4 separate regions of the Homo sapiens genome follow, and regions 1, 3 and 4 are each linked to region 2. The links come from fine-mapping of genetic effects on gene expression. A gene starts in region 2. Each other region holds a variant in brackets. All regions are shown on one strand. Distances are from middle to middle. Region 1 has its middle 14 kb from the start of LINC02483. Region 2 holds the start of PARM1 (prostate androgen-regulated mucin-like protein 1). Region 3 has its middle 7.4 kb from the start of LINC02562. Region 4 overlaps PARM1 (prostate androgen-regulated mucin-like protein 1).

The links. PIP is the estimated chance that this variant, and not a neighbour inherited with it, causes the effect. A credible set is the group of variants that fine-mapping cannot tell apart.
Region 1: its variant is the best candidate, but not a certain one, in a credible set for the expression of PARM1 in tibial artery (GTEx, PIP 0.59).
Region 3: its variant is the best candidate, but not a certain one, in a credible set for the expression of PARM1 in whole blood (TOPMed, PIP 0.51).
Region 4: its variant is the best candidate, but not a certain one, in a credible set for the expression of PARM1 in lung (TOPMed, PIP 0.78).

What each region holds. Positions count from the first base shown.
Region 1 is chr4:75,336,478-75,344,394 of GRCh38, reverse strand. No RefSeq gene overlaps it. Among named protein-coding and RNA genes, the nearest start is that of LINC02483, 14 kb to the left of the region's middle. The variant C/T (reference allele first, on the strand shown) is at 3,026.
Region 2 is chr4:74,929,038-74,936,954 of GRCh38, reverse strand. PARM1 (prostate androgen-regulated mucin-like protein 1) reads right to left here and starts at 3,839. Exons shown (of 4, transcript NM_015393.4): 1 at 3,585-3,839. The coding sequence starts at 3,627. RefSeq lists an enhancer at 2,906-2,955 and silencers at 3,066-3,115, 3,696-4,005.
Region 3 is chr4:75,088,179-75,096,095 of GRCh38, reverse strand. No RefSeq gene overlaps it. Among named protein-coding and RNA genes, the nearest start is that of LINC02562, 7.4 kb to the right of the region's middle. The variant C/T (reference allele first, on the strand shown) is at 4,102.
Region 4 is chr4:75,036,311-75,044,227 of GRCh38, reverse strand. All of the region lies in intron 3 of PARM1 (prostate androgen-regulated mucin-like protein 1), which reads right to left. It overlaps LOC107986289 (a long non-coding RNA gene), which reads left to right. Exons shown (of 3, transcript XR_001741728.2): 3 at 6,429-7,173. Among named protein-coding and RNA genes, the nearest start is that of LINC02562, 44 kb to the left of the region's middle. The variant G/A (reference allele first, on the strand shown) is at 3,987.

The DNA of each region.
Region 1 (7,917 bases), 410 kb before region 2:
GATGCCATTATATTCTTGTATAATACTTTATATTTTTTCTAATGATCTAATTGCTTCTTTCTTTAACTTCCCTAAGATCACTAGGGAATCTGTACAATCTGGAGTAAGGAAAATGTAAGGACTTACAGTATAATTTTGTTATTTTTGGAAGCTTAGTTCAAAATTCTAATTTAGCACCCAATGTCATCTTTGGATACTGTGTGCCAGTCCAGAAAACTAGCACCTTTTGCTCAGAGCCAAACTGACAGAGACATGCTCAAATAAATTCACATTCCCATTTTAACTAATAATTCAGCAGGAACCTGAGTTTGCAAACTGGTAGAAATAAGAAAGAGGGAGTGGGTGTGGGTAAAAGAATGGGTTAGAGACCTGGCGCAGGTGGCTCACGCCTGTGATCCCAGCACTTTGGGAGGCCGACGTGGGCAGATCTCGAGGTCAGGAGATTGAGACCATCCTGGCTAACACGGTGAAACCCCGTCTCTACTAAAAATACAAAAAATTAGCCGGGCTTGGTGGCACACACCCGTAGTTCCAGCTACTTGGGAGGCTGAGGCAGGAGAATCTCTTGAACCTAGGAGGCAGAGGTTGCAGTGAGCTGAGATCACGCCACTGCACTCCAGCCTGGGTGACAGACAGAGACTCCATCTCAAAAAAAAAAAAAAAAAAAGAATTGGGTAGAAAGAATATTTTATATCTTATTAAAATGGGAGTGCTGATGCTTCAGACTGACTGAATAAAAGCTTGCCCTTGAAGTTGACCTTGGAAATGTGAAACTCTCCAGGAAAAAAAAACAAAAACAAAAACATAAACTTTGAAATCCCACTGTGGTGAAATTAACAGATAAGGTTGTAGTCCTTCCTGGTGTTTACAAAGAACAGAGATCTTTATGATTAATGACAACTCTCTTTTAGCAGGTCACTTCTCAAGTCCTCTGCTTCCTGGAAAGTAATATTTATCTTAGAGAAGTTTCATTTCATAATACCCTGTCTTTTGTTGTCGATCTGTTAAATGCAGGCGCTTCCATTACAAGGATCCACCAAGGGAAAGGACAAAGATGATCATGCAGCCAACAATAATGTTCATTTATTTATTTTCTCCAGATTCCAAAAGCACTAAATAAATGAGGCAAATTAGAGGATGAATGTTAACGTTTTTGACATAAATTGAACTTAGTGGTAGATGATAGTTTTCTTTGGAGACCTTTCAAGATCAAATCCACCCATATTTATCACATCTGGTTGCATTGCTTACTATCAAATAGCATGATATAATTTTATGGACATTGTAAACTCACTTTAGGTATGGCCTAATACAGCCCACTTCTTTGAAGGCAGCATGAAGTTCCAGGGAAAGAGGTATTTCAAATCATAATAATCAGGACATACAGATAGAATGTAATTCCTGCCTTATAATTAGTGAATCTAACCTCTGAAGTACTCACCTTCCCAGAAGTAATTGCTCTGTTTGGGTTTCGCTAACAACAGGGAATTTTAGGCCTGTGGGGGTGATGTCTTTGATTCTTTCAGTGACTGCAGAGCACTACTGGAATATAGCAGGCAAGACCAGTGATGCTGAGTGTACTGCAAAACATGAGGCTTTCTCACAAATGAGGAATTGTTCTTCCTAAAGTGTAATAACATTCCTTTTGAGAAAACTGCAGAAAAAAGATGACAAGAACCATAGAAACTCTATGTATACTCATTGTCTCAGACACCAGTTCTGTGTTGTAAACCTTCCTAAAATTTGGTGTATTAAAACAATGCTTTATTATTTCTCATGATTCTGTGGGTTAACCAGGGTCAGCTGGGCTGTTCTTTTGCTCCATGATGTGATGCAGCTGAGAACACTTGTGCAGCTACATTTAGCTGAGAGCTCAACTAGGATTGGCATATTCAAGATGTCTTCTCACATTTATGCAGCCAACAGACATATGAAAAAATGCTCATCATCACTGGTCATCAGAGAAATGCAAATCAAAACCACAGTGAGATACCATCTCACGCCAGTTAGAATGGCGATCATTAAAAAGTCAGGAAACAATAGATGCTGGAGAGGATATGGAGAAATAGGAATGCTTTTACACTGTTGGTGGGAGTGTAAATTAGTTTAACCATTGTGGAAGACAGTGTGGTGATTCCTCAAGGATCTAGAACCAGAAATACCATTTGACCCAGCCATCTCATTGCTGGGTATATACCCAAAGGATTATAAATCATGCTGCTATAAAGACACATGCACACTCATGTTTATTGTGACACTATTCGTAATAGCAAAGACTTGGAACCAATGCAAATGTCCATCAATGATAGACAGGATAAAGAAAATGTGGCACATATACACTATGGAATACTATGCAGCCATAGAAAAGGATGAGTTCATGTCCTTTGCAGGGACATGGATGAAGCTGGAAACCATCATTCTCAGCAAAATATCACAAGGACAGAAAACCAAACACTGCATGTTCTCACTCATAAGTGGGAGTTGAACAATAAGACATGGACACAGGGAGGGGAACATCACATGCCAGAGCCTGTTGGGGGGTGGAGGGCTGGGGGAGGGATAGGGTTAGGAGAAATACCTAATGTAAATGATGAGTTGATGGGTGCAGCAAACCACCATGGCACATGTATACCTATATAAGAAACCTGCACATTGTGCACATGTGCCCTAGAACTTAAAGCATATATATATAAAAGAGATGTCTTCTCATTTTCCAGAGTCTCTCTGTATGTGCCTTCTCCTTATTCTATATTCTAGCTTTAGCTTCTTCATGGAGTGGTGATGGGCTTCTAAGAAGGAGTTTTCCAAAAATGCAAAACTGGAAGCTGCATGGGCTCTTATAGGCTAACCTTAGAAGGCACTTGTCACTTCTACCTCATTCTTTTGGACAAAGCAACTCACAGAGCCAACTCAGAATCAGATTCAAAAGGAGGGTAAGTAGATGAGAGGATCCACCAAGCCTCATTGCAACAGGCATATGAATAGAAGGGTTTGTTGCAGCACATTTAGAAATGATTCTTACACA[C/T]ATGACAACATTTAATTCTTTGTGAGTTAGAAATTAACCATAAGTTTCATTTCATAGAAGAACAAACTGTGGCTTTGAGATGATAAGTGACATGCCCAAGACAACACCATTCACTGGTAAGTGGTGGGGCTAAAAGTTGGGTTGCCTGATCCCAAGTCCTTTTGCCTTCCTTTATTTTTTATTTTCTTAGAAGTTATTTCAGGGTTAGGCAAAATAAATGAGGCTTGTAAATTTGGTGAGTCCTCCGTTTTCAGTGGCTGTTGAATATCTTCCGGACTTTCTTCCCAAGATATCATGCAAATTGCCCATGGTCCTTGTACTGTGGTGTCCCATTTATGTCCCACTTCCTTGGGCTGTACTCCAGGCTTTGTAGTCTCCCCAATCCCTATTCCTGTTCAAATTATGACGCTCTCTTCTCTGTCTTGCTGTTAGCTAATACTGGACCAGAGAGCAGCTAATATTCTGACTCAAATTGTCACCTAAGTATAGTAATTGTTTAATGTTTCTGTCTACCCAGTATCTGTTTTCCCTTTGGTAACAGTATACCAATTTTCCCTGGGGGATCCATTTCTTTCTTTGTTTTGTTTCATGTGGTTCAAATGACACTGAATGTAATCCCTGCTCCAGGAGTGAACAGTTGACTGAGGGCTGGCTAATTAGAGGCTTGCATTTCTCTTGTCATAGTCATTGGTTTGCAGATGAGCACATGACCCCAGCTAGGACAATGAAAAGTCACTAAAAGTAAATTCTGTTCAGGTTCTTTGTAGAGGGATACAGAGAAAGAGCATTTTCCTTCCTACTGATGAGATGAGAGGTAAGCCTGGAGCTTCTTGGAGCCATCTCATCTCCACGGGCAATAGCCTGTAGGAGAATGAAGCCATCAGAGGAAGGCAGAGGGGTTAGTGGGGATGAGGGCAGTGCTGGTCCAGTAGCATCATCTGAGACCCTGGGAAGGGCCAAAGCCAAATCTATGCCTGGATTTTTGAGGATGGTAGCAAATTAATTCCTTTTTCTGCTTCAACTAGGAATTCCATTGTGATTCAAATGACAAGAGATCCCAGGGTAGTATAAGGATAAAACTTTAGATAAATACAAAGTATGGTATAAGATAGGGAATTGTATTAACAAGAAACAAAATAGCAGTAAGAGCTATTAGACTGTAATCCTTAGGCAGCTGAAATTATAAGTGTACATTTTGTTTCTGAAGGCACATTTCTAGTTCATTGTCTTGTACACAATAATTACTAAAACATCAGTCTTAAATCCCAACCCACGGAACACAGAGTCTTTCCTGAGGAGACGGCAAATAGGTTTTTTTCTCATGTGCCAACTCTGATAATTTCTAGTGCCTACCTGGGGCATAGACTGAAGAAGACTCCTGAAGGCTGTCACAGGCTATGGGAAGAGTGAAGGAGTAGGAGTGTCTGCTATGGGTGAGAGTGGTGCATCAAAGTTGCGTCTAGTTTCCAGTATATGGTGGTGACCTCTGGTTGTGAAAGAAAAGACAGAAGAGCTGCTTTTTAGTGTTTCGAATTTTTCCTTTCTTACTAGCCTGGTACCTTGGTTAGATAATTTGTTAGATAATTTTAGTTGATTCATTTGCTTAGCTACCTAAAGCCTTTGGTCTCAATATATGTTTAGGAGTCAATGTTCAGTTAGGTCATTTGGCATCTATGATAAGAGGTAAAACTTACCCAACAGAAAAATATTTTCTACTATATTATTTAGTTGGTTTGTGTTAGGTAGAAGCTGAGTTCCACATAACCCATGGAGGCCTGGTGTACTCTTGCCAATTCCTTATCCCATACCCTGTGAACTTTAGGAAAGGCAGCGTCACAGCCTGTGTTATTAACTCTCATGACCTCCTGAAGTGGAGAATGTTCTAGTGGCATTTTTCAGAACCTCATTTTGGTAGGCAGAATGAAGTTCCCTCCCAAAGGTATCCACATCTGATTCCTGGAAACTGTGAGTATGTTATGTTGCATGGCAAAGGGGAATTAAGGTTGCAGATGGAATTCCGATTGCCAAATAGTTGACTTTAACTTAGAGAGACTGTCCTAGATAGTCTGAATGGGTCCACTGTAATCACAAGGGTCCGTAAAAGTGGAAGAAAAGGAGAGAGGAGGGCAGAATAATGTGAGGTGAGAAGGACTCGACCCACCATTGCTGGCTTTGAAGATAGAGGAAGGGGGCCATGAGTCAAGAAGCTGGAAAACGCAAGGGATGGATTCTCCTCTAGAGCCTGAGAAATGAATGCAGTCCTGCCAACACTTTGATTTTAGCCCAATGAGACCTAACCTGCAGAATTTTGAGCAGACTTCTAACCTACAGAATTGTAAGATAATACATTTCTGTTGTTTTAAGCCACTAAGTTTGTGGTGATTTGTTATGGTGGCAATAGGAAATTAATACAAATTTCTCTGCAGTGAGATAAAGCTCTATTAAATGCAAGTTGAGTCATAGAATTATAGAGCTGAGTGGGATCTCAGAGGTCTTCAGGCCAATCTTAATTCCCCATACATGAATCTCTTTTACCATATACTTGATAAATGGCTTTCCAAGCTGCATAATCATGTCAACAATGACAGCTGCCAATGTCCAGAGGTGATTCATTCTAATGAACTGTCAGAATTCTGTCCTATAGGAGGCAGAAATGGACCTCCCTGTAGCATTCCTTCTTTAGTTCCAGTTTTGTTTTTTAGAGTTGCACAGAACATTTTCAAGTTTCTTGTTTACAAAAGATAGCTGTTTAGCTGTTTGAAGATTTAACCATGACCTCCTGAGCATGAATATCCTCATGCTCTTCTTGTGGATTCCACAGCACACGTGCCCTAGTGACTAAAACTACACCAAACCTGGCAGATGTGGTATAACCAGCAGACAGCCTGCAGATGCTTACTGGTCTCCTCTGTTCTGAATATCCCCCCTGTGTGTTGTATTCACTTTGTCAAGAGCATATCTGCTACAGTGCCCAATGCTGTATAAACAGCTTTCTTTCCCTCCATGATGTAGACTTCCCTTTCTCTTCTCCAAACCTCTGAGGGTTCTGCTTTGCACCTGATAGATGCCTGATATAAATATTTACTTTTGAAACATGCTATCATTTTCATATCCTTCATCTTTCTTATCTGTTTCCTTGTATGATCTGTTCCTGGGGGTGAAGGAGGAGAGGAGATAAAACTAATTCTGCGATGTAGAGGACAGAGCATATTTTGTGGTAAAGACCTGGATTCAAATTCTGCCTTTAATGTTTACTGGCTCTAGACTGCAGGCAAGTTTCTTAGTATAGCATGGACCTCCGTTTTCTCATCTTGGAAATGGTGAAGAATAATTCTTATTTATAGGATTGTGGTGAGAATTAAATGAGGTTGCCTATGTAATATGCAAAACAAAGTCCTTGCCAAGATTTAGTATCTTTTTTCTCCTGCTTCTCCCAACACATCTGACTTTGTTCCTCCTTTATCTTATACAACTAGAGAAAATAAAATCTTGAGCTGCGGGTTCAAACTCAGAGTGCTCAGGATGGCCACTGTGTTCTGGAGGAATAGCAGATTTGTATGAAGTTGCAGAGCTTGGACTGAACCTTAAAGGCTGTGTGGAAGAGAGTTGAATAGCAGGGATGACTAGCAAAGTTTTGTGCCCTGACTTTGAAAGTTATGTTCATTTTTTTTTTCTGTATTCCTTTTTTTTAAAATTGTACTTTAAATTCTGGGATACATATGCAGAACGTGCAGGTTTGTTACATAGGTATACATATGCCATGGTGGTTTGCTGCACCCATCAACATGTCATCTATATTAGGTATTTTGCCTAATGCTATCCCTCCCCTTACCCCCCACCTCCCAACAGGCCCCAGTGTGTGATGTTCCTAACCCTGTGTCCATATGTTCTCATTGTTCAACTCCCACTTATGAGTGAGAACATGCAGTGTTTGGTTTTCTGTTCCTGTGTTAGTTTGCTGAGAATGATGGTTTCAAGCTTCATCCATCTCCCTACAAAGGACATGAACTCAGTCTTTTTTATGGCTGCATAGTATTCCATGGTGTATATGTGCCACATTTTCTTAATCTGGTCTATCATTGATGGGCATTTGGGTTGGTTCAAAGTCTTTGCTATTGTGAATAGTGCCACAATAAACATATGTGTGCATGTGTCTTTATAGTAGAATGATTTATAATCCCTTGGGTACATACCCAGTAATGGGATTGCTGGGTCAAATGGTATTTCTAGTTCTAGATCCTTGAGGAATCACCACACTGTCTTCCACAATGGTCGAACTAGTTTACACTAGTACCAACTGTGTAAAAGCATTCCTGTTTATCCACATCCTCTTCAGCAGTTTCTTGACTTTTGAATGACTGCCATTCTAACTGGCATGAGATGGTATCTCATTGTGGTTTTGATTTACATTTCTCTGATGACCAGTGATGATGAGCTGTTTTTCATGTTTTGGCCACATAAATGTCTTCCTTTGAGAAGTATTTGTTCTATCCTTCACCCACTTATTGATGGAGTTTTTTTGTTCTAGTAAATTTGTTTAAGTTCCTTGTAGTTTCTGGATATTAGCCCTTTGTCAGATGGATAGATTGCAAACTTTTCTCCCATTCTGTAGGTTGCCTGTTCACTCTGCTGACAGTTTCTTTTGCTGTGCAGAAGCTCTTTAGTTTAATTGGATCCCATTTGTCAATTTTGGCTTTTTTTTTTCCATTGCTTTTTGTGTTTTAGTCATGAAGTCTTTGCCCATGCCTATGTCCTAAATGGTACTGCCTAGGTTTTCTTCTAGGGTTTTTATGGTTTTAGGTCTTACATTTAAGTCTTTAAACTATCTTGAGTTAATTTTTGTATAAGGTGCAAGGAAGGGGTCCAGTTTCAGTTTTCTGTATATGGCTAGC
Region 2 (7,917 bases):
AGGTCCTGAGAGGAGACAGGGGCAAACAGAGCAGACCCAGGGCGGTAGAAATAGGACCATGAGGTTTGTGCCTCTCTTACCTAGTGTCCTTCCTTTTTGTCCTTCTTGAGTATTCAGAAAATGCCTTTGAAAGTTCTAACATATCTCATACTTCACTGAGGGAGTTTTTAAATAAATAGGGCCATAAAAAACTTGAACGTGCCCGGGCGCGGTGGCTCACACCTGTAATCCTAGCACTTTGGGAGTCCGAGGCTGGTGGATCACGAGGTCAGGAGATCGAGACCATCCTAGCTAACACGGTGAAACCCCGTCTCTACTAAAAATACAAAAAAAATTAGACGGGTGTGGTGGCGGGCGCCTGTAGTCCCAGTTACTCGGGAGGCTGAGGCAGGAGAATGGCGTGAACCCGGGAGGCGGAGCTTGCAGTGAGCTGAGATCGCGCCACTGCACTCCAGCCTGGGAGACAGAGAGAGACTCCATCTCAAAAAAAAAACAAAAAAACAAACAAAAAAAAAACACTTGAATGTAACAACCATGGTGGCAAGAACAAAGGAAGAGAATCCCGAGGGGAGCAGGAGAGGGATAAATGTGGAAGCTACCAGGGGCCTGCCATTCTCGTTCCCTTCTTGGTTTTGGGGATAAAGGTTGGAGGCTCTGGTTTGTATTTTAATCTGGAATCAGTACTCCAATATGCCTTATCCTGGCATAAGAAGTGTTTGAAAATGGTTTATAGAATAGACATCTAGTTTTCTACCATAATCAACCTTGAGAGAACTGAAGACCATCTAAGATTTCTCTCTCCTTTTAGAAATAGAAGTGAGGCTGGGCACAGTGGCTCACATCTGTCATCCCAGTACTTTGGATGACCAAGGTGGGAGGATCACTTACGTTCAGGAGTTCAAGACCAACCTGGGCAGCATAGGAATACCCCCCATATCTACAAAAAATAAAAAAATTTAGCTGCCTATGGTGGTGTGAACCTGTAGTCCCAGCTACTCAGGAGGTTGAGATGAGAGGATGGGGAGGCCGAGGTTGCAGTGGAACTGGAATCGCGCCATTGCACTCCAGTCTAGGTGACAGAGCTAGACCCTTTGTCTAAAAATATATAAATATATTTATATATACCCGAGTGAATACATGTAGAGATCTACCCTTGTTGGCTTGTTGACAACGCACACATATTTGCAAGTGTCCATTGTATGTGCTGGAGGAAATACTATGTATACTTTGAGAGGATTTGTTGAGCCAAAAAACAGGCCCCTGCCTAATGCTGTTCCTGGCTCAAGAAAGTATCACCTTAAGAATTTTACAGAAATATTGTTGAAGCCTATGGCTAGAGGAGGAAAATGAGAAGGAAACAGAAAAGACACAAGGCCTGGTGAAACTAACTAGAGATTTGCTAGGGGAGTTCTGGGATAAGCCCCCAAAACACATGTGTGTGCACTTTCACTTCAAGAGCCCTCATCCCTTTCTTCTTTACCAACACGTCTATTTTTTTCTTTAAAAATGATATTTTACATTCTGAAAACACCTTAAAATTAAGGTGCAAAGAATCTCATGAGGTATTTATGCCAATTTTTATATTATTTTTTCGGACGATTTATTGCAAAGTAGCTCTAACAACAAACTGACGTCTTAAAGAGATTCCTTCAAAGGCACAAACTTCAGGGGGAATGCAGTGTCCATTAGCTTCATCATTTTCAGCTTGGGATATGCATATCGAAGCATAACTAGGGAAATGAGGCAGTATGTCTTCCTGAGTCTCGAGCCTCACAGCTGGAAGGCTGTGACCATCTGGGCTCTGATCCTAATTAGTGCGTGGGGGTAGGAGTGGTGCTCAGCCGGTCCCTGGCCCACCAGTCTCCTCGCTCTAGCGGTGGGTCAAGGGTGATATTCCTCCCGGAATAGCGGAGCTAAACTGTAACGCTGAATAAAAGAAAAAAGAAAAAAAAAAAAAAGAAAAAAGAGCTTCTTGGGGTGGGGGTGGGGAAGCTACAATACACTGTTTGTTAGGGTTAATCCCGGTTTTGACAACTGCCAGAGCTGTTTAAAAAAGGAAATGATTAAATAAACAAGACAAGCCACTAAATCAAATTTGCAAACGAACCTCTCTACTGACTCACTCAAGGGTTTCTGAACCTCAAGAAAAGATTTTTGAGTGAGGAGAAGTAAAGGTACCTTCCGTGTCATTACGTAAGCATCTCCTGCTTTGAGGATTACAGGAATTACCACCCGCAGCCAGCCGGGAGCTCCGCTGCCTATTGCACCTGCCGGACCTAGGCTCTCTCATCTCAGCCCGAGGCTGGGCAGCCAAAGCCGCCTGCGAGTATTCGGGAACTGTCCGCGGACGCGTCTCCAAACCGTGCCGAGATACCAGCGAGAAAGAGGTTTTCTCAGACGGACGTTCACTAAGTAGAGAAAATACGCTATAGTTTCAAGTTGGGAAACTTTTCCTTATAACTGCATTACCCACTGTGAGCTGCCTGAAAACCGCTAGCTTCTTTTCAAGGGATTGCGACGACTCGTGTCCACAACTGTAGGAACCCGACGAACTCAGAGGGAGGATATACAGACTAAAGCACGAGTAGAATCGGTTTGCGCTATGTGACTTTGGGTCACATTTAAACTGAAAATGCCAGTGGCCGCGCAGTCGGGCTACTTTTCCCAGCAGCACCATATCCACAGCCAGTTGTCCCTTTTCGGGAGACGTTTTCTGGAAAAAATAGGTACCTGAACTCTAGATTCAAAGCGTCTTTCTGAATCTCTCCCCGGTCCCCGCCAAGCCGAGCTCAGTCATCTGGCTCCCCTCTTCCCCATCCCCGCTGCCAGAGGTCGTCGCCGTCTGTGGTCCCGAAACCCGAGAGTGGCTCCTACGAAGCCTTTCAGAGGTGGTGCAGGGGGAGGGGAGAGGATGCTAGTTTAGCCAAGTTAATAGTTTCTTCTATGGGATACGTTTTTGGGGAGTTCTGGGGCAGAAGGTAGCCTTGCTACCCCCAGTGACGATTGCGAGCCTGACCAAGGCCGGGCCGCTGCTGTTAGTGCCACATCATCCTAAGCATAACTAGGAAGGGACGCCGGAGATCAGAGACCGCCAAGACTCGAGAAAGCAAACCAGCCCCGCCAGGCGCGCAGCCGCTGCTGAAGCCTTCCCAGATGCGAACCTCCCACCCCCACTTCCCCGGCTTTTTCATCCCTTCCAGGGCCCAACGGCAACAAGAAGTCTGGTCCCGTACTTTGGCAGAGTGCGCTCCGAAACCCTGGTGAAGAAAGAGAAGCCTTGAGGCGCAGTCCGTGTTGCCCACTCTGGGTTCGAACACGCAGCTAAGACAGCCACCTGTTCTACAAAGCTGGAGTTTGTGCGGGCGCGGGCTGCGGCAGGAAGGACCCCATCGTCCCCTCCCTCAGTACGGTTCGGGACCGCCAAAGGTGCACGTCACCCCAAATCTAAGTGCGCACACACCTGCGCACTCACCCGGAGGCGCGCGGCGACTCACTGCCGGATCTCCTAGCTTCAGCCCCGACCACGCGCTAGCTACTGGGGCCCACCCCGCGACCTGCCCTTCCGGGAGGATGGCGCCAATTACCTGCAGTTAAGATGCAAAGAGCGAAGAGAGTCTTGTAGACCATGGTAGCCTGGTATTTGGTGCCCAGCCCGGGGCGGGCGGCAAGGAGTTTGCGGACTGACAGAGCGCACTGGGCGCTGGTAGCGACTCCTCTGCCGGGTGGGCTGCGGTGGGAGCCGGGAGGCGCGAACAGCTCCAGTGGAGGGCGCGAGGCAAACGAGGCGAACGCAGCGCAGCTCCGTCAGCTGCGTGCCCTCCGGTGCTCCGCGCTCTTCTGCTCCATCCCAGCCGCCCGAGCCCGGGGCCGCCTCCGCCTCCGCCGCCGCCGCCGCGCCTGCCGCTGCCAAACCCCTCCCACCCGGGCCCCGCGGCGATGACTGGGCCACCCCCTGGCCTTCCTTCTCTCAGCCCTCAGGTCCCGAGAGCCCCGGCCCAGAGCGGCCTCTGCTGGACAGTCAAGACACGAGACCCTGGGTTCAGCAAATGTTTGCAGCGCCTTGCACTGTGCTGGGAACTAGGGATGCAAAGAAATGTGAGCACATCTCTGCCCTTAGGAATCTAGCTCAGCTTTTCCTACATGAGCTTACAGCCTTTAAAAAGGTGACCTTATGCCATTTTAGGAGTTCCCTCGGAGAACCGGCACATGTTCCAAGAATGAGGACCTTCTTCATTTGTCAAAACACTTCTGCGTGTACATCATTAAACCCTCATCCACATTAAACCCGGCTGAGCTTCCTGGGGCCCGAACCAGGATGTCTGCCGCTGCATTCAGCTTCTTACTAGAAGAAAATACTGTCGGGGGGATAACTAAGCCAGACACCCTACTAGGCGTTGTTTCATGAATCCTTCTAAGAATTATTATTATTCCATTTTACAGGTGAGAAAATGAAGGCACAGAGAAGACAATGTTCTCAAGGTCGCATAACTGGTAAGAATAGTTTGTGCACTAGGCCCATAATAAAGGCTGACGTTTCCTGAGTGATTGCTATGTGCTAGGCACTGGACAACGTGCTGTTCAGGAATCAACCAAGTCATTTAGTTCTCACAACAATCCTTGGAGATTATATCCTCGTTTTCAGGGGAGAAAGTAGAAGCACAGAGAAGTTTAACTTGCCCGAGTTCACACAACTCGCAAGTAATGATAAGATGCCTGCCCAGGCACCCCGCTCAGCCTCTGTACTCTACTCCCTCTCAAGAGCCCAAAGCTTCTCCAAAGCCTACAGATTAGAACTGACCTTTCATTCAGTTCCCTCCCTGCTCTTGCTACACTTTAGGCTTGCTTAATTCTCACACTTCGATCAAAGCAGATGCCAGGTTCTCTCCCAATTCTGTTATTAATGAACCTATTGGTCCCCTAGTCACTAGAGCTGGGGCACTGCAGGAGTTAACAAGCCTTTGTAAAGAAATGATTTGCGTGGAAGGCAGCTTTCTTTTTTCTGTAATATCTTCTTCATATGCCATGGGCTCTGTTCTCACTTCTTTCTCACATACCAGAAGCTGACTCTAGGAGTCCTGAGCACCTTATCTATGGTCAATTCCTCTGCCTGACTCTATCACACTACCACTTGTAGATTTTGCTCACACTTCCACAACCAGATTAAATTTGGATCATATTTTTTTCTCTTTGTTTTGGTAAATCTAGTAATTTCTGTTGGAATGAGAAACAAAAAATACTCAGACCAAGTGCCCATCCCCTCTCCATCCTCCCTGGCCAGATAAACTGCAAATTCAATTTGTTCAGCATGTTCTCTGAATGCTTTTGACTTCAAGGCCCTTCCGGTTTCTAGGGTAATCTATGTGATTAGGAACAATTTCTGCATCTGGGTTTTGGTTGTCATGGATGCAGGGACCACACACAGATGGAGTTATGCAGCGACATTCTATCAGGCATTAGCCCCTTTAAATAGGGCAGGTTAAGTAAGTGACTCTATGGCAGAAATATAGGTTTTTGAAGACCACTTCACAGAAAAAATTTATTCAATTGAAATTCAGCAAAACTTGAAGGAGTCTTTCTGGAGTGCGAAGCATGTGCAACTCTAACCTTGATATCTAAGATAATGGTTTGGTACTCAAAGAATCATGACCCCTACACACTAATCAGTGAAAATTTCCAAAACTTTTCTATTGTACGCAGGATAGAGTTGAAATAATTTCTTTGATTAAAATAGTTCATTTTAATTGCTGATTAAAAATTTTAATTTATTAATTAATTTAGTCAGAGCATATTTAATCACTTATTTTACGCCAGCCCTTATGCTAGGCAATGGAAATACAATGGTTGTAATAGCCAGGGTAGTGTAGGTTATGCTGCTGTAACAAACCAGCCCAAAGTCTCCCAAGCTTAAGCGATAATGGTTTATTTTTTGCTCATCAAAGTCTGCTATGGATCCAGGTTACTCCTCAGAGTAGCTGTCCTCAGGATCAGTGTTGTACCGCCATATCGAAACCTGCTTTTGTTACAGTAGGTAGCTAGATAGGCATGAGTGGGGCAGCAGAGGGCTCCCCCCACACCCCACCAGGAAAGTCAGGTAACCATCATGTGATGGCCAGGCAGTTATTAACTGTCTCTCTAAAATAATAATTGGTTACAGCTGGCACGAGGGACTGACCATCTCCCCATAAATAGGGAACACATGAAACTGGTAATCAGCAGCTTCCAATAAGATCTCAGGAGGTGGGTGACTGAACTCAAGCATGTGCATTAAGATGCAAAATGGTGGAGTTTAACTGGTATATGACCTTCTGGGGGCATTAAAGCAATGCAAGACGCCAGAAGTAGACCAGCATGTAAAACCCTAAGTGCAAGGTCAAATGGGGCACTTGACGTCCAAGATGCCCTCTTAGGCCTCTTCCAACTGTGCTTTCCTTTCTTGCTGCTCTAAAGCTTTTTAATTAACTTCCACTCTTGCTCTGAAACTTGCCTCAGTCTCTTATTCTGCCTTATGCCCCTCAATTATATTCTTCCTTCCGAGGCAAGAATTGAGGTTGCTGCAGTCTCTGCCGGTGACTCAAATAACTTCCACCTCTAACAGTTTCACATCCACCTCTAACAGTTTCACATCCACTGAGTTAGGGAAAGAGAGAAGTGGAGAATTAAGTATTTAAATCTTCCACCTAAAAGTGACAATTCTGTTCATATTTTATGGGCTAAGGCAAGTCAATGGCCATGCCCAACTTCAAGAAAGCAAGAAAGCATGTTATTTTTGCGTGCTCAGATAGAGACGAGAACTCTATAGCAGGGAACATTGTGATATGTGCCACAGGGGCTAATTGTCCCTGCACCAGGAAACTTATTTTCTAGTAGTGGGGAGTTAAACATTGAATGAATAATCACAAAGACATATGCAATAACATTATATTAAATGCTACAATAATAATAATGATGAAAATTTATTAATTGTTTCAAGCATTTTATGTACAGTCATGTGTTTACATTTCTACACTCTAACTTTGTGAGATAGATACTGTAGAAGACCAGAATGTGCCACTTCAGAATATGCCTTTTCAGTATAAGCATTTGTTTGAGAAACAGCAGCTATAGGAGCAACTCTGAGAACAGAGTGGAATTACCTTTTTGTAGGGTGAATTTAAATCTATAAAGGAAATTTTCATTTGTAAAAATGTCTTCCTCTGAATTCTAGGAAGAAAAGGATGGCACTAAATTACTGGAAACTCTTATCAATGGAGAGGGCTCTGACTTAAATACGCATAACAAACTTTACCTTTGTTTGCCATGCTTTACCTGGTCACTTCCTCATAACTGCACCCCTACCCCCATACTCCTCTTTCTTTGTTTCAGCTGAAGATGATATTTAAGTTTGAATTCAAAGTCACCTCTTTGAAAATTACTAATTCCCTGACTATCTCCTGTACATATATATGAAATATACATGTTAATAACCTCGTGGGGTTTTTGTTGTTGTTAATCTGTCTTTTGTTATAGGGGATCCCAGCTTAGAACTCATAAGGGGTAGAGAGAAAAATTATCTTTTCTCCCCCCAAATACTATTATTATCCAAATGTTACAAAGTAAGAAACTGAGAAATACTTATACAGAATAAAACTTTGAAGGAAACTAAGGGATTCAATGAGATATAATAGCAGGGGAACTAGTACTCCTCAGTGGGGTCAAGGATGGAATTTGCATGTAACCCTTAGTTATGACTTACAGCAAAAGCCATTTTTTTTTTAGTAGAATTCTTAGTTCTTTTATAATACTCCACTGGGATAAAATCTCACATAAATCTACCTTTTACTGACTTTGACTCTTTTTTGATCATTGTTAAAATGAATTTTTAGTGTTGTGGACTTTTAACATTTTACCAAAAAAATTGCTCTTGGCTGACATAGATTT
Region 3 (7,917 bases), 160 kb before region 2:
ATTCAGGACATAGGCATGGGCAAAGACTTCATCTCTAAAACACCAAAAGCAATGGCAACAAAAGCCAGAATTGACAAATGGGATCTAATTAAACTAAAGAGCTTCTGCACAACAAAAGAAACTGTCATCAGAGTAAACAGGCAACCTAGAGAATGGGAGAATATTTTTGCAATCTATCCATCTGACAAAGGGCTAATATCCAGAATCTACAAGGAACTTAAACAAATTTACAAGAAAAAAACAAACAACCCCATCAAAAAGTGGGCAAGGGTATGAACAGACACTTCTCAAAAGAAGACATTTATGCAGCCAACAGACATATGAAAAAATGCTCATCATCATTGGTCATTAGAGAAATGCAAATCAAAACCACAATGAGATGCCATCTCACGCCAGTTAGAATGGTGATCATTAAAACGTCAGGAAACAACAGATGCTGGAGAGGATGTGATGAAATAGGAATGCTTTTATACTGTTGGTGAGAGTGTAAATTAGTTCAACCATTGTGGAAGACAGTGTGGCAATTCCTCAGGGATCTAGAACTAGAATTACCATTTGACCCAGCAATCCCATTATTGGGTATATACCCAAAGGATTATAAATCATTCTACTATAAAGACACATGCACATGTATGTTTATTGAGGCACTATTCACAATAGCAAAGACTTGGAAGCAACCCAAATGCCCATCAATGATAGACTGGATAAAGAAAATGTGGTACATATACACCATGGAATACTATGCAGCCATAAAAAAGATTAGTTCATGTCCCACATGGATGAAGCTGTAAACCATCATTCTCAGCAAACTATCACAAGAAGAGAAAAACAAACACCACATGTTCTCACTCATTGGTGGGAGTTGAATAATGAGAACACATGGACATAGGGAGGGGAACATCACACACTGGGGCGGGTGGGGGGTGGCAGGCTAGGGGAGGGATAAAATTAGGAGAAATACCTAATGTGGGTGACAGGTTGATGGGTGCGGCAAACCACCATGGCACATGTATACCTATGTAACGAAACTGCATGTTTTGCACATGTATCCTAGAACTTAAAATATAATAAAAAAAAATCCTCAACAGAAAAAATACTAGCAAACCTAATTTGACAATACATTAGAAAGATCATTCATCATGACCAAGTGGATTTATCCCTGAGATGCAAGGATGGTTAGACATACGCAAATCAATCATTGTGATACATTATATTAACAGAATAAAGGATAAAAACCATATGATCATTTAAATTGATGCTGAAAAGCATTAGATAAACATCAACATCCCTTAATGTTAACCCCCTCCCCAAGCAAACTGGGATTAGAAGGAACGTAGCTCAATATATTAAAAGCCACATACAACAGATCCACAGCTCATATCATACTGAACAGAGAAAAACTAAAACTCTTTCCTCTAAGATCTGGAACATGACAAGGATGCTCACTGTCACCACTGCTATTCAACATATTACTCAAAGTCCTAGCTAGAGCAATCAGACAAGGGAAAGATACAAAGGACATCCCAAATGGGAAAGGAAGAAGTCAAATTATCCTTGTTTCCAGATGATATGATTTTACATTTGGAAAACCCTCAAAATGCTACAAGAAAACTATTAGACCTGATAAATTCAATATAGTTGCAGGATACAAAATCAACACACAAAAATAAGTAGCATTTTTATGCCAACAGTGAACAATGTGAAAAAGAAACCAAAAAATAATCCCATTTATAATAGCCACATATGAAATTAAATATCTGGAAAATAACCAAAGAAATAAAAGAACTCTATAATAAAAACTATAAAACAGTGGTGAAAATAATTAAAGAGGACACCAAAAAATGGAAAATATTCAATTTTCATGGGTAGGAAGAGTTCATATTGTTAAAATATCCATACTACCCATAGCAAACTATAGACTCAATGCAATCTCTATCAAAATACCAATAACATTCTTCACAGAAATAGAAAAAATAATTCTAAAATTTATATGAAACCACAAAAGACCCAGAATAGCCAAAGCTATCCTAAGCAAAAAGAACAAAAGTGAAAAAATCACCATTACCTGACTTCAAATTATACCACAGAGTTGTAGTAACCAAAACAGCATGGTACTGGCATAAAAACAGACACATAGAGCAATGGAACAGAACAGAAAACTCAAAAAAATCCACACATCTACAGTGAACTCATTTTCCACAAAGTTGCCAAGAACATACACTGGGAAAAAGACAGTCTCTTTAATAAATGGTGTGGGGAAAACTGAATATACATATGCAGAAGAATGAAACTAGACCCCTATCTCTTGCCATATACAAAAGTCAAATCAAAATGGGTTAAAGGCTTACATATAAGATCTCAAATCATGAAGCTACTGTGAGAAAACATTTGAGAAAATCTCCAGGACATTGGTCTGGGCAAAAATTTCTTGAGCAATACCATACAAACACAGGCAATGAATGCAAAAAGTAACCAATGGGATCACATCAAGTTAAAAAGCTTCTGCACAGCAAAGGATACAATAAATTAAGTGAAGAGACAACTAACAGGATGGGGGAATATGTTTGCAAACTATCCAGCTGACAAGGGATTAATAACTAGAATATATAAGGAGCTCAAACAACTCTACAGGCAAAAAAATCCAATGATCTGATAAAAAAAAATGGGCTAAAGATTTGAGTAGACAATTCTCAAAAGAAGATATACAAATGGCAAACAGGCATATGAAAAGGTGCTCAAAATTATTGATCATCCAAGAAATGCAAATCAAAACTACAGTAAGATATCATCTCGCCCTAGTTAAAAAGGCTTCTCACCAAAAGATGGGCAATAACAAATGCTGGAGGGTATGTGGAGAAAAGGGAACCCTTGTACGCTGTTTGTGAGCATGTAAATAAGTGCAACCACTATGGAGAACAGTTTGGAGGTTCCTCAAAAAACTAATAATACAGTTACCATATGATCCAGCAATCTAACTGCTGGGTATATACCCCATAAAAAGGAAATAAGTATAATGAAGAGATATCTGCACTCCCATGTTTGTTGCAGCACTGTTCACAATGGCTAAGATTTGAAAGCAACCTAAGTGCCCATCAACAGAAGAATGGATAAAGAAAATGTGGCATATACACAATGGAGTGTTATTCCGCTATAAAAGGAATGAGATCCTGTCATTTGCAACAACATGGATGGAACTGGAGATCATTATGTTAAGTGAAATAAGTCAGGCACAGAAAGACAAACATCATATGTTCTCACTTATTTGTGGGATCTAAAAATCAAAATAATTGAAATCATGGACATAGAGAGTAGAAGGATGGTTACCAAAGGCTAAGAAGGGTAGTAGGGGGTTTTGAAGGGAGGTAAGGATGGTTAATGCATAATAAATAGAAAGAATGAATAAGATATACTATTTGATAGCACAACAGAGTGACTATATTAACTGTACATTTTAAAATAACATAGAGTGTAATTGGATTGTTTGCAACTCATTGGATAAATGCTTGAGGGGATGGATACCTCATTCTTCATAATGTGCTTATTTCACATTACATGCATGTATTAAAGTATCTCATGTACCCCATATATATATATATCTACTATGTACCCCAAAAAATTAAAAATTAAAATTAAAAAAGTGAGACTAAATCAAAATACAGGTATACTTTGGAGATATTATGAGTTCAGTTCCAGCCCACTACAATAAAGCAATAAAGTGATTCACAGGAATTTTTGGTTTCCCAGTGCATATAAAAATTATGTTTGCACAATCCTATAGTCTATTAAGTGTGCAGTAGAATAATGTCTTAAAAAATGTACATACATGCCTTAGTTAAAAACCTTTTTTTGGCTGGGTGCGGTGGCTCACACCTGTAATCCCAGCATTTTGGGAGGCTGAGGCAGGAGGATCACGAGGTCAGGAGATCGAGACCATCCTGGCTAACACGGTGAAACCCTGTCTCTACTAAAAAAAAAAAAAAAAAAAAAAAAAAAAAAAAAAATTAGCCGGGCGTGATGGTGGGCACCTGTAGTCCCAGCTACTACTTGCGAGGCCGAGGCAGCAGAATGGCGTGAACCTGGGAGGCAGAGCTTGTAGTGAGC[C/T]GAGATCACACCACTGCACTGCACTCCAGCCTGGGCAACAGAGCAGACTCCGTCTCAAAATCAAAACAAAACAAAACAAACAAACAAACAAACAAAAACTTTTTTTTGCTAAAAACTGCTAACAATCTTTTGAGCCTTCAGCAAGTCATAACCTTTTTGCTGGTGGAAGATCTTACCTCAGTGTTGATGGCTGCTGACTGATCATGGTGGTGACTTATGAAAGTTGGACTGGGTATAGCAATTTCTTAAAATAAGATAACAACGAAGTTTGCTGCATTTATTGACTCTTCCTTTCATGAAAGCTTTCTCTGTAGCTTTGTGATATTGTTAGTATTTTGTTGAACAGTATTTTACTTACAGTAGAAATTTTTTCAAATTGGGGTCAATCTTCTTACAGTCTGTTTCTGATTTATCAATGAAGTATAAACTTATAAATCTTATTACTTATAAAGTTATAAATATATTCTAAATCCTTTGTTGTCATTCCAACAATGTCTACAATATCTTCACCAGGGGTATATTTCATCTCAAAAAACCACTTGCTTTGCTCATCTGTCAGAAGCAATTCCTCATCTGTTAAAGTTTGATCATGAGATTGGAGCAATTCAATCCCACCTTCAGGCTCCACTTCTTATTCTGGTTTTCTTACTATTTCCCCCATATCTATAGTTACTTCATCTACTGAAGTCTTGAACCTCTCCAACTCATTGATGAGAGTTGGAATTAATTTCTTTCAAGCCCTTATTAACGTTGATATTTTGACCTTTTCCCATGAATCACAAATGTTCTGGATGACATCTAGATGGTGAACTTTTTTCTGAAGGTTTTCAATTTACATTGTCCGAGTCCATCAGACAAATCACTCTCTATTGCAGCTATGGCATTATAAAGTATATTTTGTAAACAAGAAGACTTGAAATTAGAAATTACCCCTTGATCCATAAGCTACAGAATGGATGTTGTGTTAGCAAGCAGACAATCAACAATAACCTCCTTGTACATCTCTGTCAGAGCTCTTGAGTGATCAGGTGAATTGTCGATGAGCAGTGATATTTCAAAAAAGAATTTTTTTTTTCTAAGCAGTAGGTCTCAAGAGTGGTCATAATGTTCAATAAACCATGCTATAGGCAGATGTGCTGCCATCTAGGCTTTGTTGTTCCATTTGAAGAGCACAGACAGGGTAGATTTATTAAGAGCATCATTCTTAAGGGCCTTAGAATTTTCAAAATGGTAAGTGAGCATTGGCTTCAATGTAAAGACACAAGCTGAATTAATCCCTAATAAGAGAGTCAGCCTGTCCTTTGAAACTTTGAAGGCAGATATTGACTTGTCCTCTTTATGAAAGCCCTAGATGGCCTCTTCTCCCAGTAGCAGTCTGTTTTATTTACATTGCAAGATCTGTTGTTTAGTGTAGCCACATTCATCAATGATCTTAGCTAGATCTTGTGGATAATTTATTGTAGCTTCTACATCAGCACCTTCTGTTGTTGGTTCTACATCAGCACCTTTTGTTGTAGGTTCTACATCAGCACCTTTGTTGTAGCTTCTACATCAGCACCTTGCTGCTTTACTTGTACTTCACTTATGGAGATGACTTCTTTCTTTTAACCTCATGAACCAACTTCTGATAGCTTCCAACTTTTCTTCTGTAGCTTCCTCTCCTCTCTCAGCCTTCACAGAATTGAAAAGAGTTAGAGCCTTGCTCTGGATTAGGCTTAGTTCTAAGGGAATGTTTTGTCTGGTTTGATCTTCTCTCTAGACCACTAAAACTTTCTCCATATCCAGAATAAGGCTGTTTTGCTTTCTTATCATTTACACGTCCATTGAAGTAGCACTTTTAATTTCCTCAAGAACTTTTCCTTTGCACTCACAACTTGGCTAAGTGGTGCAAGAGGCCTAGCTTTTGGCTTATCTCTGGTTTGAACATGCCTTCTTCACTAAGCTTAATCACTTCTAGAGTTTGACTTAAAATGAGAGATATGAGACTCTTCTTTCACTTGAATGCTAAGAGATCATTGTAGGATTATTGGTTGGCCTGATTTCAATATTGTTATGTCTCAGGGATTAAGTAGACCAGAGAATAGAGAGAAAAATGTGGGAAAGGCTGATAGTGGAGCAGTCAAAACACACACAATATTTATTGATTAAGTTTGTTATCTTATAAGGGTATGGTTCATGACATCCTAAAACAATTGTGATAGTAACATCAAAGATCACTGATCACAGACCACTATAGCAGATATAATAATCATGAAAAAAGCTGGAAATATTGCAAGAATTACCAAAATGTGACACAGGCACAAACTGATCATATGTTGTTGGACAAATGGCACCAATAGACTTGCTCAATGTAGGGTTGCCATAAACCTTCAATTTATAAAAAAAAATGCAATATTTGAGAAACACAGTAAAGTGAAGTGCAATAAAACAACATATGCCTGGATGTCTTTTCTTTTCTCAAAATCCTTTGATGGCTTCTCCGGGAACTTATGATGAAATCCAACCTTACAATGCGTCCTACAAAGGCGTGCATGATTTGACTGATTCTCCAACCTCCTTTACCATAACACTCCCTTCCACTGTTTACAATCCAGCATGCTTTCTTGTGTATACCCAGGGATTTCCACATCATGACCTTGGGGCACTCTCTTCTGTCTATCTGGAAGCTTTTCTCCTAGGTTCTGATTCTCTCTACCTAATTAACGTCTACAAATCATCCAGATCTAGGCTCAAATGTCACTTCCTCAGAGGGACACTTTCCAAATGTATTGATCTAAATTATTATTCTGTATTTATTCTCACATAATACTTTTCCTTAAGTGCTTACTAAAATTTGTAATTCTGTGTTTATTTATGTAACGACTGTTTCCTTTACCAGCAAGTGAGCCTCACAAGGCAGAAGCAATATCCAGTTTGTTATTATTAGCATATGGATAGCATGTAGTTTGTTGGCAATAAATATTTGTTGGAGTAAAGGTATTATGATTTTTATTGTAAATTTAAAAATATATATTTCTGGAAAGTCTAATTTTGGGGGAGACTAAATTTATTTTTGGAAGAATTTATCACAGAAATTCTCATATAAAAGACATTATTAGTGTAACATAATATATTAAACTAGAATTTATGTGATATGAAAATATTCATTAAATTAATACTGAAAATATAATACTGGCTTTTTTTTCAATCATAAAAAGTAATATTTGTATAAGTGGCACATTGAACAGGTAGGACTCTTGGGATGTATTAGAAAAGCACATTTATTTATTTTTTTAATCTCCCACTGTCTGTATAAAATATATTCAGTGGAGAAAGTGTTTCCCCGCCCTGGTTTACTTTTACATAATAACAATAAAAAATAATGTTATAGTCACAATCACAGTTTCAATTCAGAAATTGAGACATCCAGTCCCAAGGAATGATCCAAACTCTGACCTTGATTTAAGGTTAAAGTATTTCCACTCCCTTGGCTGGTGGTTTTCTTCAGGCAGGAAGGCAAGGAAGGAGAGGTATCACCCTTCTCTTTCCTTTCTCAAGTTAGGCTTCCATCCCCTTGTTTTTATCTTGCTAATTGTGGCTTTCTGTCTTTACCAGGATTGGTGTGGTGGTGGGGATGAGGGGTGTAGTGATATAAGAAGGAGAAGCAACAGGGATAGAAAAACTCTAACTGTATGGGCCTTTTTGTTAGATGGCTGTGCATTCTTTGACCTGGGCAGGTGTTTACTATGGACTCTTCCTCTCTCTTCCTCTTCAGAAGTCTTTCTGAGAACTCCTGAATGTGTGTCCTGAGAGGCAGGCAATGAATTTCCTCCTCCT
Region 4 (7,917 bases), 110 kb before region 2:
GACCACTCCCACTAATTTTTATCTCAGCTAGATGTGAAAATTAAACAAAATGAAAACACAATTCAAAGGTGCAAAAAGCATTTGGTATACTTATATCTGTTGCTAAAATAATTGCTATTGCAATTTTGAAGCTTATTTACATCTGCCAGGTATTTGCAAAAAGACAATTTTTTTTTTTTTTGCAAAGAACTAGACCTTTGCTGTGCTCGTTTCAAACTCTTAGCCTTCAAAATTCTGATTTATGTCCTGAAGGCTGATTCAGCTGACCTAATCTATGTACCTGAAAACCTGAAGATGTTCCACAGTTTGCTTTCCCTAAAGGCTCACATTTATTTCTGTGGGTATGGGAATGAAAGAGACCATAAATAGAAACCCAGAAACACCACTGCTTCTTTGATCTATAGAAATAAGGGAGGTAGCTTTGGTAAACAAAGGTCATGGGCTGTCTATGGCCAACACTCTCCCCAAATGTGAAACCTCCAGTTCCAATCAAATCCTTTAACAGGATGGTTGAGAAATGGAAGCTGTAGAATGAACAAGTTAAAATCCGGTAACTAAAGCCCTGGAGCTCTGCCTAAATTTCAGCATAACTTACTGCTACAAGCCTGGCAAAATATACTCAATAAACATGCTCCTTTATTGATAGGGTACTCCTGCTTCACCTTGTATGGTAATTGAACTTCTCACAGAATTTTTATCTCTATCATATATTTTTATTCCCATAAAATGTGAGTTTGGTCAATAAATGTATGTCCTTGAATAAGTTTTTAACCCCCTGTTTCTTCATCTATAAAATGGAGAAACTTTAAAAAAAATTGCTTTATGGTTGTTAGGAGGATTAAATAAGGTAATGAATATAAAAGGCCTGCCACATAGCAAATGTGCAATGAATGTTGGCCAATATTGTTTTTAAATTTTTAATATAATAAATCTTATACAAGCACATGGTGAATCTGCCAAATAGTAAAAAATGTCATTGAATGAAAAGTGAACCTCCTCCCACTGGGAACTCTTGAAACTATACCCCAGGCATAGTTATAAAACCAGTTTCTTACATGATTGTTATTGTATTTGAATTTTTAAAGTTTATTAGTATGTTGGAATGGGGGTTAGAGGATTGAAAATCTTCTGGCTATCAGGTTTACTGGCTATGGTTATTTTAGGCAAGACTATTTGGTTAATGCTATATCTGAATCTCCTATACTGTAAGACACACCTCCTATACAAACACTAGTAAAATAAAGGAAAAAGATTGGCCTTTACTTTGTTTTTTTTTTTTTCCTTCCCATTAAGGAAACAGTGAGTTGAGTAAAATGCTGATAAGTGAGGAAAGATATACAAGAGATATGGATGAACCAAAATTGGGAATGTACTGAACCCATAGGGCTTATTTACCACATTAACGAGCTTAAACAGGAAAAATTGGGTGTACTGGGATTCCAGCCAGGTTTGGACAAATTGGATACTATTGTAGTAAGAGTAAGACAAACACATTTTTTGTACGTGTGATAAGAGGACAATAATTAGTGAGCATGTAAAACTTTCTCTCTAGGTCAGAACCTCTTAAATCATGGCACATTTTGGATGGAAATGGGGAGGTTTTCAGATTGGCATTTGCATAGTGTATGAGGTTAAAAAAAAAAAGACAATCAGAAACCAAAAAACAAAGCAACTCCCATTCTCAAGATAAGTAAAGTGGGACCCAAGGAATTTAGGTGACTTTGTCAATGTTATTTAATGGTAGTGCTGCTAATGAAACCAAGGTCTCTTTGCTTGCTTTATAAGGCAACATTGCTTCATCTAATTTCAACCTGAACAGCAATCTGGATGAATGATGTCATTGTAAGGTCAAAGCAATTTTATTTACTAAAAGTCTTAATAAAGACTGGCACTGATTCAATATAGCCATGTTTTCTCTTTGCTGTGTCTTGGCTCCGCTTAGATGGTAAACTTCTTGAGGGCAGACTATGTCCTACTTTTCTTCTAACTACCTGAAACACCTAACATGTTGCTGTTGATATAATGGTTATTTTATAAATATTTGATGATAACTGCTTATATGCAGCAGCATAGATAGTGTATATGGAGTGTCTATGGGGTTTGGCTAATACCAGCTAGGATTAATATGGCCCATGGAAATTCATTGTATAGTATAATTGGAAAAATGAAAACATCCCATAAGGAATATTGATGGTCAAAGTCACTGTTTTGACTTTAAACATAGGAAGGGAAAAGAGCATTATGGCTGGACTAGCATGCAATGATGTGGCTTTAAGGCCCTTAGCACAGTGCTCACAGCCCGTTAATCAATGGCACTGTGCTTATTGTCAATGTGAGTCTACTGTATCATATGGTGCAGTAAGCAAATTAAAACCCGAGGGGGAAAAATGAAGAATGATTTCTTTTAAACTCTTCCCTCATTGCTCTCTTTCTCTAGTGGCTCTTCCCTAATAGAAAGCAGCACTCCCTACTCCCTGCCCCTACTTGGTGACCACTTGTTGGTGACAAATGGTAAATGATGTGGTGACATTTGTGGCTTGAGGTATTCTCCAACACTGCAAAATGGTACCTATTTAAAGATAACTGTAGCATCAATACTTAATGAAACTCTATTGTCTTTGAAAATGAGTGAAGTGTCCCTTTTCTTGCGTTGAAACAAAACATATTTTAGGAAATACCTTGTCCTTTACAAGGGTCAGCCCCAGTTCTCCACAAGTCTCCACCTTTATTTATGACTATGCCCCACAAAGCCCTCTCCTCTTTAGTCAAGCAAGTCTTGCCATTCAATCATTAGTGCTTACCATGTGCTAAGGATATGAAGAAATATGGAAGGATACAAAGATGATTAAGACATGGCTTAGTGCTGGAAAAATGCAGCTGAACTTTCAGTTCATTAGCCATGAGTAATTAAGCCTTAGACTCTTGTTGTCCATTAACAAAACTGTTTGATGCAGCTGTCACTGTCTCCTTTTCATTGTTTCCATCGTTTCCTCTTTTTTTCTGATTATCATTTCCTGCCTGGCTTCTTTAAGTATTCATTGAAAACTTACCATCTATCAGGCCCTATTCTAGCACCTGGTTGATACCTTAATAAACTGAACAGATCAAAATCCCTGTCCTTAGGGAGCTTACATTCTACGTGGGGAGACACAGTAAATAATATACAAATAATAACATGGTGAATGTTACTAAGTCCATGGAGAAAACAAATAGAAGAAGTGGGTGGGGTGGTGAGGAGTTCCCAGTAGGAGGTGGGGACTGTAATTCTGAATATGATGATCAGGAAGGTCTCACTAAGACATCTTTGAGCAGACACATAGAGGAGATGACGGATGAGCCATGTGGATAACCGAGGGATACCGTGTAGACAGAGGGAGCAGCAAGTACAGAGGCCCTGAGGCAAAAGCAAACAATATATCTTTGTGGTAGCTACTGAGTCATAATTTAAAAAAAATAAACTTTGTATGTTGGAATGATTTTAGATTTAGAGAAAAGCTGCAAAGATAGTACAAAGATTTCCCGTATACCCTTCACCCAGCTTCCACTAATGTTGATACATAATTGTGGTACATTTGTCAAAACTAAGAAATTAATATTGTGAACCACAATTTTGGGGCTAAGAAAACTGAAATCATTACAATTTATTTTATTCACCCAAAGTTACGACAGCAAGTTAGTGGCAGAGTGAGTATCACAACTAAGGAATCCTATCAGTTCCATCTTTTAAACAAAAATCTCACTGATGGGAATATTTCCAAATATTTATTTTTAAAATCCTTTTTTTTTCCAGACTCTGGGTTTCTTTTAAAAAGCTGTTACTTTCAAGCATATCTTGAAATAATTACCTTTGCTTTGAAGGGGCAGGTCATATTTGTTTATTTAAAAAATTATCTGCCAGATGGCATTACTATTGGAAGACAATCATCACAGAAAAGGTCTACACATTGGCACATCTGTTTATTTGTAAACTAGCTCAGTGTCACGAC[G/A]TAGCTAGTAAAAATCTGTGTGGTTTAACAGATTCCCATGGCTTCCCCTTCCCCAAACCCTGGTTCTTCTTGATTAGGAGTAAACGAATGTTACTGCTGCACCCCCAAACTTTCCTATTCAGACTCATGAACTCATCCAATAAATGTTCATTAAGCAACTACTATACGTCAGGTACTGCCAAGGACTTGATATTGTTCTAGTGGAGAAAACTGGTAGAGAATGCACTGATTGCAGTACAGGGAAGCACATGGTATGAGGGAAGCATGCACAGCAAGGAACTCAGTATGGAAAGGTGGATGAAGGCTTCCCAAAGGAGATCTCTCTTGAGCTGGACGACTTGAAATTAGCCAGATTGGGAAAGGGGTGAACCAAACACCTCTCACAGAGGGATCAGCATGTTCAAAATTACAAAGGCAATATATCTGAAACAGGGCAACATATCTGAAACATATATGAAACAACAGGGCAATCTATCTGGGAAACTGTACAGCAGAGAGTGTGTTTGGAGTGTTAGAAATGGGTAAAACAGGGCTACTGGAGTGTTAGAAGCGGGTAAAACAGGGCTACTCAAAGTGTGATCCTTGGACCAGCAGCACTGGCATCACCTTTGAGCTAGTTAGATATGTAAATGCAAGGGCCCCACCTGGACCTACTGAATCTGAATCTATGGGGATGAGACCCAGGAAACTGTTTATTTATTTTATTTTATTTTTTTTTCTCGCTGTGTCACGCAGGCTGAAGTGCAGTGGTGCGATTTTGGCTCACTGCAAGCTCCACATCCCAGGTTCATGCCATTCTCCTGCCTCAGCCTCCCGAGCAGCTGGGACTATAGGTGCCTGCCACCAGGGCCAGCTAATTTTTTTTTGTATTTTTAGTAGAGATGGGGTTTCACTGTGTTAGCCAGGATGGCCTCGATCTCCTGACCTCATGATCTGCCCGCCTCAGCCTCCCAAATTGCTGGGATTACAGGCGTGAGCCACCACACCCGGCCGGAAACTGTGTTTTTAATAAACTCTTCCATTGATTCTTATGCACATTAAAGTTTAAGAACCACTGAGGGAGAAAATTGAGTAAACAAGACCTACAGAACTCCAAAAGGTGACCTGAAAAAGTCAACTGTGTATAACAAATTCTAGAAGATCTTGGCCTTTATGGCTGGCTGGGCCTACTCTAACAACCAGAAGGAATCCAATTGTACAACCTGCAATCACTAGAAGACATAAAGCAAAATAGGTGACTTCTAACAAGACGTCTTAAAAGACAGGTCCTGTTGTGTCTATAAATCAAGACTGCATTTATTTTTGTGAAGAAAACAGCCCATGTAGTCTGTCTGGGTCACCAGCACACCTAATTACAGCAACATCCACATCACTGGTCTTAGCAGATACGGTCTCCTGTGCAGGGAGATTATGTCTTGGCTGAACAGTTTTGAGCCAACTTAAACAAATCAAAACAGACTTATCTCATTCTTCAATCATCACTAATTAAAGATAGTTCTGCAAAAGGTAGACAGGGCCTTTGCTTTCTTTTAAAGTTGCAAACAAGCCCTGGCATAAAGACTGCTCAGAGATAGTTTCCATTTATAAATGTGTAACATGGATTCAACTTCACAGACGTTTCAGAATAGCACTAACGAAACTGCCAAACTGGAACATGGAAGACCGCCATATCAATATTCAATTAGGAAATGAGCTGCTGTGCCATCTTCCCCCTCCTTCTCTCCCCTGTCCTTTGAATCCCTACGCCTACTGAATGGAAATGGTAGGATGGAGACTGTGCTCCCAACCTCACAGCCTATGTGTTGGTGGTTACCAGTTTACTGAGTCCCTATTTGCTAAGCACTGTTCTAAAAACTACAGCAGTAACAGTAATTGACCTTCCATCATCCTCACCTCATACCAGGCACTGAACCTTTATATGTATCATAATTTAATCTTTGTAACAATCTTGAGTTAGGTACTATTATTATTATAGTCTCATTTTACATGAAGAAACTGAGCACAAAGTGATTAAGAAACTTGCCCCAGGCTGGGCGCAGTGGCCCACGCCTGTAATCCCAGCACTTTGGAAGGCCAAGGTGGGCGGATCACCAGGTCAGAAGAGCGAGACCACCCTGGTCAACATGGTGAAACCCCGTCTCTACTAAAAATACAAAAATTAGCCAGGTGTGGTGGTGTGTGCCTGTAGTCCCAGCTACTCAGGAGGCTGAGGCAGGAGAATTGCTTGAACCCGGGAGGTGGAGGTTGCAGTGAGCCGAGATCACGCCACTGCACTCCAGCCTGGGTGACAGAGCGAGACTTCGACTCAAAAAAAGAAAACTTGCCCCAGAGTGCATGTTCTTAGTCACCATGCTAGTCTCTCCAGTTACTCTGCATTCATTACTTCATTTCGTCTTTAAAACAACCTTGAAAGATACATATTATTAACTCTATTTTTTGCAGATTGAAGAAATTGAGGATCAAGGAGTTAATAATTTGCCCAAGGCCGCCTAAATAGTAAGTAGAAGAGTCAGCATTAAACTTGACTGCAAAGCTCACATTCTTCCCTCCACACCACACTGCTGCTGGTTAAAAGGTGGGATCATAAACCAAGAAGGGCCCTGGGTTCAGGGCAGTTCATTTTATAAGTCACATCCAAAAGTGGCTCAGGTTACAAAAAGATGTGGTTCTCCAGGCAGGGGTCATTGTGACAAAACTAGGGGTAATGGGTCCCTGGAGAAAGGGAGTGTGAAAAGCAGATGGCTCTTAAGTTTACAATGCCTTTAGAGGAAATGAGGATCTGGGAAGAAAGGTGAAAAGTCCCCACCCATTGTTAGCAGAGCTTGCCAAGCATTCTATTTTTCTGATCATGAGGCTGCCTTTTCAAGCAGATTCTCCCCTTGCATTTGCAGAGAACTTGGCTGGGCCAGGGCCATATCCCATGGTTGCAGGTCAGAAGCTAATGGCTCCCTATGGGTTGTGATTTTAGTCACTCGCTGCTCCAGCCAAACAAGCTAAAAGACCACAGAAAACAGATCTTTTGTTATGTTATTGTTTTTAGAAATCTGGGATGAAGAAAGAAGAGTAAGTTCCCAACCAAAGCAAAGCCTATCCTTAGGAACATACATGCACACACACACGTCAATTAAAGTATTTTTGATGAACGATTAATGGGGCTTTCCGACAACCTGGCAAAATAACAGCTGAAGGGGTTTTAGCATAGCCTTAAGATTCATAACAACGATTAATCTCCTTATGTTATCATTTTACCAAAATAATTAATAGAGAAGCAGAAAGGGGCTTTCCTTAGGGGGTTTCTGAAACCCCTTAAGGGTCTAATAACTGTATCCATTCTTAAGTTTATAGTGCTTAAACTTAAGTAGCATAATAGATAAATAGCAACCTTATATTTATGCCACTGTATATCTTACTACATTTAGGAGACAGAAGCTGTATGGGGAAGAAGAATAATGATTTATTCAATTTAATCATTTACTTAATTTATCTGGTGCTCTGAACGCCTGGGGAAAATATAGCTTAAAATAAAATTTTAATCAGCACTCATCAGAGCAAATTGTAATGGCCTGCTAACAAAATTTTCCAAACATGGTAAGTACTGTGATGGCAGAACTGTGTCACATCACTAATGTGGCCTGGCACATGGCTGACGCTCTACAGCTATCTATCAAGGACTGTCTTCCTGGGGCTCCTTCCAGTCTACCACTTTGATGATGATGATGATGTTGGCAGTGCTATATACTTGCTTCCAAACAACACTACAAGGTAGAAACTACTGCCCTTATTTTACAGGTGAGGGAAATGAGGGTTAGTGGTGCTCTGTGACATGCCCAGGTCACAGTGCTGGAAGTAGTAGAGCCAGGATTTGAACTGAGGGCTCCCTGCTTCTGGAGTCTGAATTGTTAATCACTATTTTAGACTGCCTGCCTATAGC